Regions from separate parts of the Homo sapiens genome. Here region 2 is linked to region 1. The links come from fine-mapping of genetic effects on gene expression. Tissue or cell type: whole blood. Region 1 holds a variant in brackets; the other region holds the start of a gene. All regions are shown on one strand. Distances are between the middles of the regions.

Region 1 (8,262 bases):
TGCCCACATCCCTTCAGTGCGTCAGTGTCCAGGCCCTTCTCATTGGAGCACCCAGAGCCAGGACACTGCCTGGATCTGCACCTCAGGGCGTACCCTGCTCGGTGTGTCAAGCTGACCCTGGTGTGCATTGCACACTTCTCAAGTGTTTGACCGTGTTGCTGAGCTAGCACCACATTCTGTCAGGAGCACGCAGGCTTTATGTTTTGCCTCTAGCACTGAGTGGTAGTGACTTTCGCTTCTACTTCCTCACTGATTTTTCTGATGACAAACGAAAATGAAATTTTGCTTATCTGGCTCAAATTATGCTCTTGCTCACTTCTGTACACGAGATTGCCCCGTTTTCAGTTTTGCAGACTTAATGTTGCGCTCCTGCTGCTGTTTCCTTGCCTTGGGTTGGGGCAGTGGACAGAAGGAGCCGGAAGCTGCCTGGCATCAACTTTCAATTGTTGGGAGTGTAGCTGGCATTCTGAGATAGGGAGGGATTGCTGGAGTCCTTGGTTCCTACGGAAGAAGGACCGTGGAGGAGGAGCTGGAACTTAAGCACTGTCTTTGACCCACACTGAAGGATCTGCCTCCAGGGCCTGAGACCAGGCTGCTCTGCATTCAGGGAGGCATTTACATGACAAAACGTGGGTGTGTCCCTGCACACTGAATGTAAATATGGGTGGAGGCACATCTTTGCCTTGAGGCTTTAGAAACAAGATTTAAAAAAAAATCTGTAGCAAAATGTCCTTGTTAAGGAGTGTATTTCCTACTGGGCAGCCATGGTGAAGGGTTCTGTTTGAGCCCAGGTGTCCTCCTAGGCAGTGAGGGCTGTCCCTGGTGCCCCCTCTGATGAGATGCTTGTGTCAAAGATGCTCAGTCTGCCTGTCGGGTTCTCAGTGTTCTGGGCTCTCCCACAGCTCCATGCAGGCAGGCCTGGGAACTGAGTGCTGTGCAGAGCCCTCAGAGCCCCGTGTGGTGCAGGCTTTGCTCTCTGCATTGCCTCCAGGAAAGGAGCCCAGCTTCTGGCTTTGAACTGGGTTCCCTGAGGGATAGAGTTGAGTGGCAGAGGTGAAGTTACAGGTTTTGGCCTCTGACCCTCTTTCTCCAGCACTGAGCAGTAAGGACTTTCTGTTCTACTTCCTCAACTGATTTTTCTGTTGACAAATGAAAATGCAGTTTCACTTATCTGGCTCAGATTATGCCCTTGATCATTTCTTTCTTTTTTTTTTTTTTTTTTTTTTTTTGAGATGGAGTCTTGCTCTATCACCCAGGCTGGAGTGCAGTGGCGCGATCTCGGCTCACTGCAAGCTCTGCCTCCCGGGTTCAAGCTATTCTCCTGCCTCAGCCTCCTGAGGAGCTGGAACTGTAGGAGCCCACCACCACACCTGGCTAATTTTTGTATTTTTAGTAGAGACAGGGTTTCACAGGTTGGCCAGGATGGTCTCGATCTCCTGACCTCATGATCTGCCCACCTCCGCCTCCCAAAGTGCTGAGATTACAGGCGTGAGCCACTGTGCCCAGCCTTTTTTTTTTTTTTTTTTTTTTGGAGACACGGTTTTTTTCTTGTCACCTAGGCTGGAGTGCAATGGCATGATCTCGGCTCACTGAGTTCAAGCAATTCTCCTGCCTCAGCCTCCTGAGTAGTAGTGACTATTAGCGCCTGCCACCACGCCCAGCTAATTTTGTATTTTTAGTAGAGATGGGGTTTCACCAGGTTGGCCAGGCTGGTCTGGAACTCCTGACCTCAGGTGATCTACCCGCCTTGGCCTCCCAAAGTGCTGGGATTACAGGCATTAGTCACTGCGCCTGGCCCATAAAAACACCTGTTTCTGTTAAGTCAAATATTTGAGGAATGGCTTAACAAAAATGGCTGTTTCTGTTAAGTCAGTTGTTTGACGTTTGGCTTAGAACATCCAGCCCTAGTGTAGCTTCCTCATGGATGTGTTGTTGTAAGCAATGTATTGTGAAGTAGCCCTGGCTTTAGCTTGTGTTATTAGTGCAGTACCTGTATCTCGTTGGCATATGTTGCAACTAGCTGCTAAATGTATTTTAATAGGGTTCCTAAGTGTATTTGAATAAACAAAGAGCCAATCATTTTCTTGTTATATTTTCTCCCTAGAAAATTCAAAACGACTGTAGAGACCCTCCGGATTACTGGACAATACATGGACTATGGCAAGTGTCTCACACAATTAAATCTTAGGCAGAAGAGGCTTGCTGACTGGGAACCCTAGCTTGAATGTGGTCTTAATATTTATTCTTGTTTTTTATTTTTAGGAGTTTATCCAATAGACTAGATTCTTATTTAAAAATATCTTTAGTCTTTCTAGCAGAACCCTGATTCTCTTGTTCTTTAATTCTGTCTTCATAGAACAATAACACTTTTTTTTTTTTTTTCTGAGACAGAGTCTTACTCTGTTGCCTAGGCTGAAGTGCAGTGGCACGATCTTGGCTCACTGCAACCTCCACCTCCCAGGTTCAAGTGATTCTCCTGCTCCAGCCTCCCAAGTAGCTGGAATTGCAGGCACGCCCCACCACACCCGGCTATTTTTTGTATTTTTAGTAGAGACAGGATTTCACCATGTTTGTCAGGCTGGTCTCGACCTCCTGACCTCAGGTGATCCATCCACCTTGGCCTCCCAAAGTGCTGGGATTACAGGTGTGAGCCACTGTGCCCAGCCAATAACACTTTTTAAAATAGTGTTTACAGATTCTCGGTACATGTCAGGGTCACTACATTTTAATTTTCTCATTTTGTTCTTCTCTTGGGGTTTATTATAAATAACTACATGAAAATACATAAATGCACGTCTCGTACACATTTCAGAGACACTCAAATTTATTATTCTGGTTTTGTCTGCGTTTTGTTCAGTTAATTCTTTTCTATGTAACATGGACATACTTGTGACGCTGAACTGTGCACATTAATCGCCCCATCTGAAGGACCCGTTTTGTCCCACTGCCTCGATGCCGGGATTGAAAAGGGCCCTTTTAGCTTAATTGGTGCCTCCTGGCTCCTTAGGAAGAGGGATTGGTGGAAAACAAGTTAAACTGGGATGTAGGTACTTGGCTTCGGGTTTCACTTTCTTCTCTGTCTGGTCAGATAACCTTGACCTCCTGTCTCTGGGGCTCCTGGCTTTGCTAGACTTTGCGTGGTGTCCTCTCCCCTGCTGTGACCAAGTGCTCTGAATGTACCTCTGCCCATCATGGCCGTTTCATTTCTGAGGCTGGAATGAAGCTTTGCAATGCTGTCCAGTCCAGCGGATAGAATCAGGCAGGTTTCACATGCTGGTCCAGCTGTTGACCCTGAAGACACTCTCCTCCCTGGCCTCTTTGGGGCTCTGAGGGGTCGGGGTCTTAGGAAGTTAGTGACCTTGTGGAGTAAGCAGCACTCAAGAGTCAGAGTTGATAAGTCCAGAATTAGATGTGTGAGGATGGAGTTAAAGTTCTAGACAGTGTAAGTGCGTTTGCTACTGAAAATGAAATGAAAATCCTACTAGCTGATCTTCTGCCATACGCCAGGCACTTTCTGACATGTTTTATCTGTCATCTCCTGGAGTCCTCCTCACCATTGAAAGGAACAGACTCTCGCTGTTCTCATGCTGGATCTGTGGTGCGGAGATTGGCCGGGGGTCAGCTTACTTAGGTCTCGGTGCTAGGGAGCAGCAGAGGTTGCCGTCAACCCAGCCGGGGCTGACCCCAGAGTCCCCGCTCCTCGGTGCTACTAGGCTATCCATTGCACTTCCTTTACTAAGCAGTGGCCTGTCTGCATTACTCCTGGACGGTTTAACACAATTTCTTTTCCCTTCTAAAGAAATTTGAACTCTGACTCCTCTTACCTGCATCTTCTTTCTTAAGCATCCTGCCTGGGATAAGGAATTCCCAATTAGAATTTCTCTTTTTATTCTTTGCAGACTTCAATGAAAGTGTTTTCTAAGGTCATGTAGAAGCCACCCCAACCAAGCCTAATATTTCTTATTTTCTCTTTTAAATTTGAATTTCCAGGCCCGATAAAAGTGAAGGATGTAATAGATCGTGGCCCTTCAATTTAGAAGAGATTAAGGTATTGACTTTTAATTATATTTCTACTGCAGAGTGTTGACCTAGATTAACTCTTTTCTTCACAAGCGTACCTTCAAAGTCATCTTTAAAATTAAGGGGTCATGAATGTATTCACCAGGATTGAGCCCTTGCTGCTGTTTTAGTAA[G/A]TATTGTTATCTCGACCCCACAAATTACACCAATTGACCTTTTCCCTCTCCTCCCCTCCCCTGCCCTGTGCCCAAGCCACTGCATGAGGGGCCTGAGCGAGGGGCTCCGACCGGAGCAAGCCCTGACACTCCCCCATGCCAGACCTGTGCAGATCCTGACGCTCGCCCGCCAGCCCCGCCTCGTCCCAGGCCCCAGGACTTCTGGGTCAGATGACCGACGTGGGAATCTGGTCGGTGTGCCATATCGCCAGGCATCTCCAGACAGCTGAGGCTCAGAGAGCACAGGCCTGGGGCCGTCCTATCTGGTGGATGGGTTTCTGAGCAGGTGGACATGCTGGGCCTTTCCAGTACAAGAGCTTGATTAAAGAAAACTCACAGGGCGGGAATTTATTAGAGATACTAGCAGAGGCGTTCCTTTGAGATACCCGTACCTTATATGTCATACGGAGTCTTCACTCACACACACGCCCTCATCTTTCCTTAGGGGTGCCAACAGTTCCTGTGTGTAACCAGTATATACCAGGGTAACTGGACCTGGACCCCAGGGAGGGGGTGGTAACTGAGGCCTTCTTTAAAACGTGTGGTAGCATTGAAGGCTTGCGGGAGTTGTGGGTCTTTCCTAGGAATGGTACATTCCCCAAGGTCATTAGTTGCAAATCCATCACAAGTTCTTTTTTTCTTTTCTTTTCTTTTTTTTTTTTTTTTTGAGACAGAGTTTTGCTCTTGTTGCCCAGGCTGGAGTGCAGTGGCGCAATCTTGGCTCACTGCAACCTCCACCTCCCGGGTTCAAGCAATTCTCCTGCCTCAGCCTCCTGAGTAGCTGGGATTACAGGCATGCGCCACCATGCCCGGCTTATTTTGTATTTTTAGTAGACATGGGGTTTCCCCATGTTGGTCAGACTGGTCTCGAACTCCTGACCTCAGGTGATCCACCTGCCTCGGCCTCCCAAAGTGCTGGGATTACAGGTGGGAGCCACCGCGCCCAGCCCACAAGTTCTAATCCATATGGAATTGTTTTCTTTTTCCTCCCCGTGAAGACCTTCAGTGGGATGAGCCAAGAGGCTGGGGACTGCCGTGAGACTTAGAAGGGACACCCCAGAGCCTGGTGCTGTCTCTAGCTCCTCACACAGACTCTCCTCCTCTCCTCCGGGACTCACTGCAGGGAATGGTTTCTGGGGAGGCGTGATGAAGAGGCCACTTCAGGATACATTGAGTTTGAAGTGCCCTTGAGACCTCCAGGGGGTGACATAGAGGATCTTCAGGGTCAGAGGAAAGGTGGCTTTAGGCATAGTTAGCATGAGGATGGTGAATCAAAATGACAGGTGTGGGGATGGACATGGGTCTGTGGACATGGATGGGTGAGGAGTCAGGGCCGACAGGTGTGGACGTGGGTGGATGAGGGGGCAGGGCTGACAGGTGTGGACGTGGATGGGTGAGGGCAGGGCTGACAGGTGTGGACGTGGGTGGGTGAGGGCAGGGCTGACAGATGTGGACGTGGGTGGGTGAGGGCAGGGCTGACAGGTGTGGACGTGGGTGGGTGAGGGCAGGGCTGACAGGTGTGGACGTGGGTGGGTGAGGGCAGGGCTGACAGGTGTGGACGTGGGTGGGTGAGGGGGCAGGGCTGACGGATGTGGGTGGGCTAAGGGGACAGCGCTGACAGGTGTGGGCCTGGTGGGCAGAGGGGACAGTGCTGGTGGAGCCCCGTGTTAACAGCCAGGTGGAAAGGGGCATGTGTGCCTGCAGCTGGGAAAGGCGGAAACCCAGGAGTGGAGAGATTTGAGAAGAGGCACCGTAGGACTGCATATCCCCGGGGGGTCCAGGACAGGAAAGCTGAAATGCTTTTTGAGTGGGGGCGTGGGTGGGTCGTGGGTCTGTGGTGGTGTGAGCCGCTGCTCCTCAGAGTAGTCCTGGCTTCCTTGTTGTGTAGCAGTAGGAACACCTTTGCATTGTCCCAAACGGAAGTAGCCCAATTTGCACACTCAATCATATCGTGCCCTAGGACATCTCGGAGAGCTGATGGGGCTGAAGCCAGCATGGTGGGGCAGGAGAGGTGGGGTGGGGGGCTGGAGGGGAAGAGGAGGGGGACAGAGCTGCGCCCACACAGGCAGGGGCTGTGGGGTAGGGGCTGAGTTACAAATGGGCTGAGAAAAGGACCCTCATATAGGGTGCTGGAAAACAGGAGAAAGGGAAGGAAAGTGAAGTTATCCGAAGTTTGTTAAGCACCTTTTTACTGACCTTTTTGGGGTTTTTTTGGTGTAGAGGGTGTGTAGAAATAGAAAAGTAAACTCCAGTTCTGTTGGATTTAGCGCGACTGGTGCCCAGGCTGCCCAGCTCACACAAGCTCTTCTCTGGGAAAAGGAGAGCTTGTCCTTTGTTTGTTTGTTTGTTTTAACTGATGGTTTCGTTTTGTTTTTTTTTAAGATGGAGTCTCACTCTGTCGCCAGGCTGGAGTGCAGTGGCGCAATCTCGGCTCACTGCAACCTCCGACTCCCTGGTTCAAGCGATTCTCCTGCCTCAGCCTCCTGAGTAGCTGGGATTACAGGCATGTGGCACCGTGCCCAGCTAATTTTTGTATTTTTAGTAGAGACAGGGTTTCACCAGGTTGGCCAGGATGGTCTCGATCTCCTGACCTCGTGATCCGCCCGCATCGGCCTCCGAAAGTGCTGGGATTACAGGCGTGAGCCACCGTGCCCGGCCAATGTTTTTAGAACAGTTATAGGTTTACAGAAAAATTGGATGGAGATTACAGACAGTTCACTCCCTTCCCCCTCAACTCTCCCAATCATTAACATCTTCTATAGTGTGTTACATTTGTTACAATTAATGAACTGATACTGATACTTTATTATTAAATAAAGTTTAGCATTAACATTAGGGTTTACTCCTGTGTTGTGCGGCTTTGGACAAATGCAGGAGAGCAAGTCCCACCCAGTGTGCTCTGGAGCAGCCGCTGGCCCTAAACCCCCTGAGCCATACCTCCCCTTCTTCCTCCCCTTGAACCCCCAAGCAACCGCGAATCTCATTCCTGTCTCTTAAGACTACCTTTTCCAAATTGTCACGTCGTTGGAATCATACAGTATGTAGCCTCTGCAGACTGGCTTCTTGCACTTAGCAATGTATGTTTGCAGTTCCTCCAGTGTCTTTTCATGACTCGACGGCTCATTGGTTTTTGTTGCTGAAAATATTCCATTGTTTGGATGTACACTTTATCCCTTCACCTATAACAGCTTGTATTTTCGTGTGCAGTTTTATGATTACTCAAATTGCACTTGTAGATATATCTTAACAAACACTTCATACAAAATAAGCATAGGATTATTTTATTCACCAAAGTATTGTTAATTAGCAGAGCTCAATTCTTTGGTGTCAGTTTATCAAATTTACCTTCTAGGTTTTGAGTTTATTATTAAGAACCTGCGTAGACTTATTTTATTTTTTAATGCATAGGATCTTTTGCCAGAAATGAGGGCATACTGGCCTGACGTAATTCACTCGTTTCCCAATCGCAGCCGCTTCTGGTAAGTCCCAGCCTCTGATTGCTGTCTTGATTACTGTCTGAGCGGGTGTGGGGAGCGTGATGAATCGCTAGAAGTGGAAACTGTGTGGGAAGCAAGATAACAGAATCTGTCTTCTGGGGCTGAGCAGTTTGAACAACCTTTTATGAGATATGATTCTGTTACGGCATTTTTGGTGCCTTTCTCCAATGTATAAAAAATTGAAAGCAAGTGGAATTTACCATATAAGCCTGTTTTCTAACCTGTATGGTATTTATTACTTTGCTTTAAAACTTTTCTCGGCCAGTCACAATGGCTCGTGCCTGTAATCCTAGCACTTTGGGAGGCTGAGGCGGGTGGATTGCTTGAGCTGAGGAGTTTGAGACCAGCCTGGTAACATGACAAAATGCCACCTCTACCAAAAATTTAAAAGGTCAGCTAGATGTGGTATTGTGCGGCTGTGGTCCCGGGAGATCAAGGTTGCAATGAGCTGTGATCAGCTGGGGTGATAACTAGCCTAGGTGACAGGGTGAGACCCTGTCTCAAAAACAAAATAAAGATACAAATTTTCTCTT
Region 2 (8,000 bases), 320 kb after region 1:
CTTCTCGCTGTTTGGGAGTCATGACTCCAGCCGTGCTCCGCTGACACCATGGAAGGCACCAGAGTGCCCCAGGCAGAGGGACGAAAAAAAATCTGTGTTACCAGGAAAGTTATTTGATCAGCCTCTCTGTAGATTCTGGCCCTATGGTTTATAAATGGGTTTCAAAAGAAAGTGGTATGAAGGAACATAGTATTTAAAAACCAATAAAATCCAAAGCTGTCCTCACAGCGGGCTGGCGGGGGAGGTGTTGCAGGTGAAGCCCACCTTCTGTGAGCCCTGTGCCTTCCTACCCAGGTTGGATGGGGGATGAGGGCTCCAGCGGGGAGGGAGGAAGCCAACCATGATGGTTTCCACAGCTTGAAACCCAATGTGGTTTTTCTTCCTAAATGTAAGCCAGTCAATAAGGGTCAAGTACAACTGGCCTGTGGGTTTCCACCTGCCTCTCCTGACTACTCAGAAACCAGGCCCTCTGGTTTCAAATGTAAATTCCATTTCCTGGTACTTCACCATTAGAGCTTTATTTCTGTCATTTTGAAGACTTTTACGCATTAAGACTTTCTTTTTAAATTTTCGATATGCTCAGAGATTTTAAACTGTTAAACTGAGGGCACAGGTGTCATTCTGACATGGCTTGGTTGGCACCCAGATGTGAATGAGACCCAAGTGTCCTGTGGGTGAGGGCCAGGGGCCAGCCAGAGACCAGAGGCAAACTTGATCCCTTCTGACTTTTGCCGAGGGCCCAAGAAGCCCTTCCCTGACAGCTCCAGGCCCCTTGCTGACACCTGCTCCGAACGTGCCCCCACCTGAACTGTCCACTACAGTTTACCTTCTAGGGTCTCAGGACTTTAAGACCATCTTCCTGAGCAAGGACTAATTCCTACATTCAAGAAACTTCAAAGTCATAAACATTTCAAGTACACGGGGATCCACAGCCCAGGAAAAGGATTCCTTTCTGTACACTCAGGGACTACACTAAGGGAAGCTTGACTAAACCCATTTGTATCACAGCCACAGGAAGTAGTTCACAGGGGCACACACTGAAGCCCACCTCCCTCCCTCGTACTGGCTGGACACTGTCTCTGGAGCATCCAGCAGGATGCCTGTGATGGGCAGAGCCTTCGAATGCTGATACTCCGGAAAAGCACGACTTCCTGCTTTCGCAGATGGCCAGCACCAGGTGACCCTGGTGATCCTGGTGAAGTTTTGCATCAGGTGAACCTAGTGAATTCACCTCCCATGGCAAAACTTTAGTCCTAATGAAGACCGAATGTTTCAATTTATTTTAAAGATATATAGTTTCACTTGAAGTGCAATTTAGCGTTTTATTGAAAATATGTGGGAGTTTTAGAAGCTTGAAACTTTCAGCAGCCTGTAGGACTGTTTGGAGACGAACAGACATTTGTGGTACTTGACTAATTAGAAGCTCTTGGATGTCACTCAAGCCACTCCTGTGGGGTGCCCCGAGAATGTGGCATCTTCCCATATGCAGAGAGCACACCAGCCTTACCCACAAGGTGCCTGTGTAGCAGGGAGAGATGGGAAACCTTGTCACAGCTGCCTGACAGTGCCCTGTTATTCCTCAGCCTGGGACTCCCGCCTCCTCTTGTCTGTCCAGGAAACTTATTCCCTCATCTTCTTACCCTCAGGGGTTCAGAGCAAAGGCCATCTCCTCCTTGACTTCGCCAATTAGAATTGGCTTCTCATTCATCTCTTACGCATTTCTTTCACTTTACATAAAAACGGCATGAGCTTTGTCTGTTCACTCACCTTCTCTTCCATAAGACTGTGAACTTCTTGGGATGTTGTAATCATTTTGTGTCACAAATGACCACCACAGTGCCAGATGTTAGTGCTCGATAATCACTTGTGGAATTGCATTGACCACACATCAGCTAATCTGGTACTCATAGAAGCAGCAGTCACCACGGAATTCAGTCTCAAACTTACTGTGCTTGAGTCAGAGGAAATGTGAGATACTCAGAGGTCTACCAAGCTCTTTATCTTCTCTTCAGTCCTCTCCCATTCCATCATCTGGGCAAGAGCCTTTATCAAGTTCACTTTCTTTTCTGGTATTTGGTAAGGATAATTTGGATTTCGGTTACAGTGGGTCTTGATATTATACCTACCCTAGATTTAGTGGTTTTGGAGGATTTCATTACATAATCACATGAAGTAGTGTTCCATGATCACTAGAGATTTTGGTATACGTGTATTTTACCAGGAGAAAAACAAAGGCAAACAGATTTATTGTTCTAGCAATGAATTCCAGTGAAATCTGAATGATTTTCCCTCCCAAGTTCAACAGAACAGTTTTGTTGCCTTCAAATTTGGGGAACTAATGAATGTCCCATGAAATATTTCCTTTCCAATTTTGTCAGATCAGGTCAAAATACTATTGTTGGTACAACACAAGCCTTGACTTAGGCCTGCCTGCCTTGGGGCTTTTGTCCTGAACAGGATGCCCATGAGTTGGTATAGGTGGCATTCAGCACTCCTGTCTCCGGCCAGTATTACTGGCTCCCCTTCCGAGGGAAGCATGGTCGGGTTGGTCCTCCCTCATTCCCGGAGTCTGTGTCCAGTTGGAGGTCCATCTACCTCTTCCCGTGCTGGGTACAGAGTGTCTTTGTGTTTGCCTAGAGCCAGGATGCCTGAGGGTCCCAGCAGGGATACAGGGCACTAAGAGGCTGGTTCTGAGAGCACAGATTACTACCCTCCCAGCAGAACCTTAAAGGAAGCAGGCAAAGCAGTTTTCATGGGCACTTAACTGGCACACCATCTTGAAAAGGAGCAAAAAGTGGTGTTTGGTGTCCTTGTGGGGTCCTGCACTTCTGTTTTTAAAGAATAGTCATTATAGATCCTTTAATACATAATATGAAAATCAATTGCACTATTTAAATTCACAAAGCACTCCCACATCCGTGATCTTGCATAAGCCTCTTGGTATCCAGTAAGGGAGGTGAGACAGGTTTCACTCGTATTTTCCTCTTAGAGATGAGTCGTGGGAACAACGTGCAACGGCACCCAAGTTCACCAAGCAAGGAAGGGGCAGCGCCAGAGTCGTGGTGCTAAACTCCCGGCTTCCACTCCGGAGCAGCACCGCTCAACGCGGGTCTCCAGGAAACCCAGAGAGCCTATCTGACCTCACCTCAGCCCGGATGCAGCATGACTTTAAAGCTCTTATTTAAGGACATTCTGACCTCTCTACCCACCTTAGCCAAAATAGACTACACAAGTATTAACGCAACATCTGACTAGTCCAGGGAGCAAAACAACGCGAGGATTTTGCAGTTCGCACTGCAAAAGAGCAAGCAAGACTTGTCAACTCACCACCGCACTCGTTTCTGCTCTTTGCAGGTGGTGATGGTGCTATGTCAATGGGCTCGGTTTCTCCCTGTTTTTAAATACAAACTCAACACGTGCACAAGAGGAAAACAGAGCAGGCTGCACGGGGTCGTGAGCCCGCATTCTCGGCCCTGCTGCAGCCCTTGGTGAGCATTTCTAGGAAAAAAAAGAAAAAAGTGTTTCCCTTTAAGGCGGATCCCGAGCGGCGCTGCCGCCAGCAGCGGGTCTGAGGGCCTTGCCCTAGACCCAGGTCACCCCGCCCGGGTATTCCCAGCGCGGGCCCTGATAAGCCATCTGTGTAGACGTTTCCTAGAGCGGGACCGGCTGCGGAGGGCGGATGCGTCTTTGTTCTGCAGCCGCGGGAGGGAGGCGCCCCGAGGGCTGCCTGAGCCCCCGCCCTCGGGCGCCTTTGTCCGCTCCGGCGGAGGGAAGGCGCCGGTTCCGCGGAGGGCGGCTCCTGGCCGAGCTGCAGGGCCCGCTGGCAGGCGGCGGTCCCTCGCTCGCTGTGCCGCTGAGGTTTTGGCTGCGTTTGCTGATCAACAATTAAAGTTTGGTTCGGCAGAGAAAAACATGATGACAAAGTGTGCATAGGGATGTTTTAAGGAAGGAAAACATAATGACGGCCCCAAGCTGGAAGAAAGAGCAGCCGGGCCGAAGTTGCGTGACAGGAACGCCCGCGACTGCGCGGCTCCGGAGCAGCTGCACAACTCGCCCGGGCCGGGAGCTGTCCCGGGCCGAGGCTCATTAGGTATGCGGCGGCTGCGGGCACTGATTGGCGGGCAGTGCTGTGGGCGGGGCCGTGGGCGGAACCGCGTGGGGGCGGGGCTGCACGGAGCTGGTTCTTGTAGGAAGGAGTAGAAAGAGGAGGAGGGATGGGCACCTGGAACCACAGGGCGGCGCTGATGATTGGAGGTATCGGCAGAGGCGGGGCTCTCCCGGGCGGGGCGGTGGGCTCTCATTGGCAGTGCTGGTGGTGGGTGGGAACGGGAGGGGTGGTGAGCGCTGATTGGCCGTAGTGGCGGGGCGGGGCGGAGGAGGAGGAGGTGTGCGTGCCGGGGCGCGGAGCGGCGGGCGCTGATTGGTGGTAGTGGTGGTGGGCGTGGTGTAGGCGTGGCGCGTGGCCGGCGCTGGTACTCGCAGGGGAGGCGGAGAAGGAGGCGGAGGGAGCGATTGTGGCCCCGGCCGCGGTGGCCGGCGCGGCCTGCCCTTTGTGACCGCAGCTCGCGCCCCACGCCCCGCGCCCATGGCCGCCGTGCCGGGCTCCCTGGCCACGCGTGCCCGCCCGCGGACCTGAGCCCCGCGCCTGGGATGCCGGGGATGCGCGTCCCCCGGCCCTGCGGCTGCTCCGGGCTGGGCGCGGGGCGATGGACCTGAGCATGAAGAAGTTCGCCGTGCGCAGGTTCTTCTCTGTGTACCTGCGCAGGAAGTCGCGCTCCAAGAGCTCCAGCCTGAGCCGGCTCGAGGTAATGCGGCCGCCCTCGGGGCGCGCAGGTGCCGGGCACTGAGCGGGCCGTGGTCGCCCGAGCCCGCCTCGCCACCCCTGGGTGGACCCCGAGACCCGTCAGGGAGTTCAAGTTACTGGAAAGCTGGTCCGGTTCCGAAAATCGAACCAAACGGCTCCAAACGTTATCGCTGGGACTCCGTAGTAATTGGGCGGTCCGTGGGTCCTCGCGGGGGCAACTCCACCCCCACTGCATTTCCAGCTGGTTTCTCCGCCGCTGGCTGCACGGGGTGTGGGATGGTCCCCTGTGGGCCACAGGGAGCCCCGGGTGAGGAGGGGCTTTCTCTGCAGCTAGACCGCCGAGTGGCGCGGAGCGCTCCGCGGGGGTCCCTCAAAGTCCCGAGTGGAGAAGCCCCCCAGCTCCGCCCTCCGAGGCGCTGATCAGGTGCTGTCTGCCGTGCCCGGCCGGCAGGTTCCACCTTATCTTGTAGCTCATTCGTGCACTTGAAGTCAGTGTAGAATTCACAGAACGGGGAAGAACAGGCAGCAGCACAATCTGCTTAGGCGTCTAAAACGGCGTTCAGGAGTAAAGAGCCTGATGCAATATCCTCGCAGCGCCGAGGCTGATACAGATTCGTCCTGAAAACCCAGAGTACTCCCAAAGCCCTGTCCTTTCTACCTGTCCCGCATCTTGGCATCTTAGAGTTTCCTTGTGGACGGTTCTCTCGTGGTGTGTTTTATTTCAACCATCAAATCTTATTCTCTTATTCCCAGTGTCCAAATCACATTGTTGAATCTATAGATGACAAAACAGTGAAACGTGTTTAAGTGAAAAAGACATGGTGATGGGGAGACTGAGGCTGGGACCCAAAGATTTCGCCTGACACTGTCCCGCCTTTGCCTCAAGGCTGGCACCTGTGGGGTTTTGGTTGGTTTGTTTCAGCTGGAACAATCTCAAATGTTTCATCTTGGTTTTCTTTGTCCCAGCTGCCATGATATTAGACACAGACATGGGTTCTGTAACCATTGAGAGACCTGAGGAATAGACAAAAAAGTAGAAGAGAATTACTTGTTTAAAAAGTTTCTCTTATGGCATCCCTAAATCAGAATTGGAAGTACTAGATAGGATCAGTATGGCCGGTTCCCGAGGGTAAAACACATCTTTCAAACAAAACTGTTAATCCAGTACTGGAGGAGGGCTTGCTTTTAAGTCTAATATTGAAAGAAATGAAGCACACCAGTGAGGCAAATCATTTTCCTGGGACACAGGCACTTAAAAAATCTGAAGTTGACAAGATCAGAAACTCAGAACAGTATTTATCTTTATCCGGATACATGTCTTTGTTTCCTGTTTCATCTCAATGCCAAGTTTATTAGACAACTCCTTGTCTCCTTCCATTTACTGTCTTTGCCAAGAAGAGGTACACGTGTGAGCACACTCCAGGCATTGTTTATGAAGAGCAGCACTAGACACTGGCTGACCAGTGGGAGTTCAGGAATCTGCCTGATTCTGGATACACACGCCTCTGGTGTCACAGGGTTCTGCAAGGAGGGCTGGGCTGCAGGCGTGCCTCCGGAAAGAATACAGTGGGAAACAAGCGGGGGGGGGGGTGGGGGGGTGGTGGGAATAGGAAACGAGGTTTCTTCCATGTAGAAATAAAATTTCTAGAAGTCATACATAAACCATCAGCGATGTAGGAGGTCAAATGGGCTGAAAATACATGTAGTCTAAGAGCAAGTAGTCAATTAGTGCTTCCTGTGTGCCAGATCCCGTACTAGGTGCTGGAGGTCTCACTAAGATGGTCAATAATGGCCGGGCGCAGTGGCTCATGCCTGTAATGCCAGCCCTTTGGGAGCCTAAGGCGGGCGGATTATGAGGTCAGGAGATCGAGACCATTCTGGCCAACATGGAGAAACCCCATCTCTACTAAATATACAAAAATTAGCTGGGCATGGTGGCGCGTGCCTGTAATCCCAGCTGCTCAGGAGGCTGAGGCAGGAGAATCGCTTGAACCAGGGAGTCAGAGGTTGCAGTGAGCCGAGATTGCGCCACTGCACTCCAGCCTGGCGAGAGAGCGAGACTTGTCTCAAAAAAAAAAAGGTCAATGCTAATACAATGCTCTCTTTTTTACAAATGCATTCCCCAGCTTTCTATTATTTGATACTTGTGAAAATCGGGGTAGCATATGTAACTTTCCTCATTCTATTGCTAAGGGGAAGAAACCCTGAGAGTTTGAGAGTCTTGTTAAAAGCTTTCCAAGGAATTCATTCTGCAAGTGTTTATGGAGGACCGGGTCTTGGGCTGGTCTTTTTCTGGATACTGTGTCCAAAAAGACACGAGACATAGAAGTCCTGGCCTCAGGGCACTTCCACCCAGTGATGAGTCTCACAAGCAGCTGACTTTGTGCCCCAGTCCAGTAAGTTCCTCTTCTGCGCCCTACCCATACTTGAGAAGGCTGCCTGTTCGTTTGTGTGTTCACAGCTGGTTATAGGCCAAGAAGCACTCATCAAAAAATGTAAAACTGAGCAGGGGAGGTCTGTCAATGGATTGAGGTTGAGAAATAGGACACAAAGTACTGAACACAGATGTGTATTTCCTCTGTGTGGATGAATGAGAAAGATAACTTGTTTTATAATAGGAAACATTTTAAAATTGTTTCTGTGAAATTTATATTTTGAAATATACAAAGACTTTGAAAATTTTTGTTATTTGAAATTCAAAGTCTAGTGACATAAACAGGAAATTAATGTAGTTACTTTAAGTTGAAAACAATATCTTCATTTAAAAGGCTTTCAGAGAGAGACTCAGTCCTAATGTTTTCATACTTGATTTTATTTATTTTCATTTTTTATTTTTTTAAATAATGAGAAATTTCTAAAGTTCCTTCTTTTTTTTCCTCTCTTTTACATTTATGCTTGGCAAAACTTCTCTGAACATACTTGATTTTAAAATAAATTTTACGTCCATAACCCAACATTTGCTAAACCCTAAGTGACAGAGAAGTCAGGTTACTTAATCATATTTGGAAACAGTTTATTAATTACAGATTAAAATGAAATTCACTGAATATTTTTGTCCTCTATCAGCATAGAACCAAGTGAGATGGCCAAGTTGTTGACTCTGGCAACTATAATTTTGGGGGTTTCTAGAGGAAAACTGGGTATCTTCCATAGACTTCCATGGGTGTGCCCCAGAAAGGTGTCAGGTCTCAGTGAC

Evidence for each region. PIP is the estimated chance that this variant, and not a neighbour inherited with it, causes the effect.
Region 2: it holds the start of RPS6KA2, and the variant in region 1 is fine-mapped to the expression of RPS6KA2 in whole blood (TOPMed, PIP above 0.99).

What each region holds. Positions count from the first base shown.
Region 1 is chr6:166,942,468-166,950,729 of GRCh38, reverse strand. RNASET2 (ribonuclease T2) reads left to right here. Exons shown (of 9, transcript NM_003730.6): 3 at 2,105-2,160; 4 at 3,991-4,048; 5 at 7,641-7,711. It also overlaps the pseudogene LOC105378119. Among named protein-coding and RNA genes, the nearest start is that of RNASET2, 10 kb to the left of the region's middle. RefSeq lists enhancers at 1-208, 329-378, 504-1,189 and silencers at 979-1,048, 755-1,049. The variant G/A (reference allele first, on the strand shown) is at 4,194.
Region 2 is chr6:166,623,726-166,631,725 of GRCh38, reverse strand. RPS6KA2 (ribosomal protein S6 kinase A2) reads left to right here and starts at 4,475. Exons shown (of 21, transcript NM_021135.6): 1 at 4,475-4,805. The coding sequence starts at 4,707. RefSeq lists silencers at 3,716-3,775, 4,026-4,195, 4,256-4,605.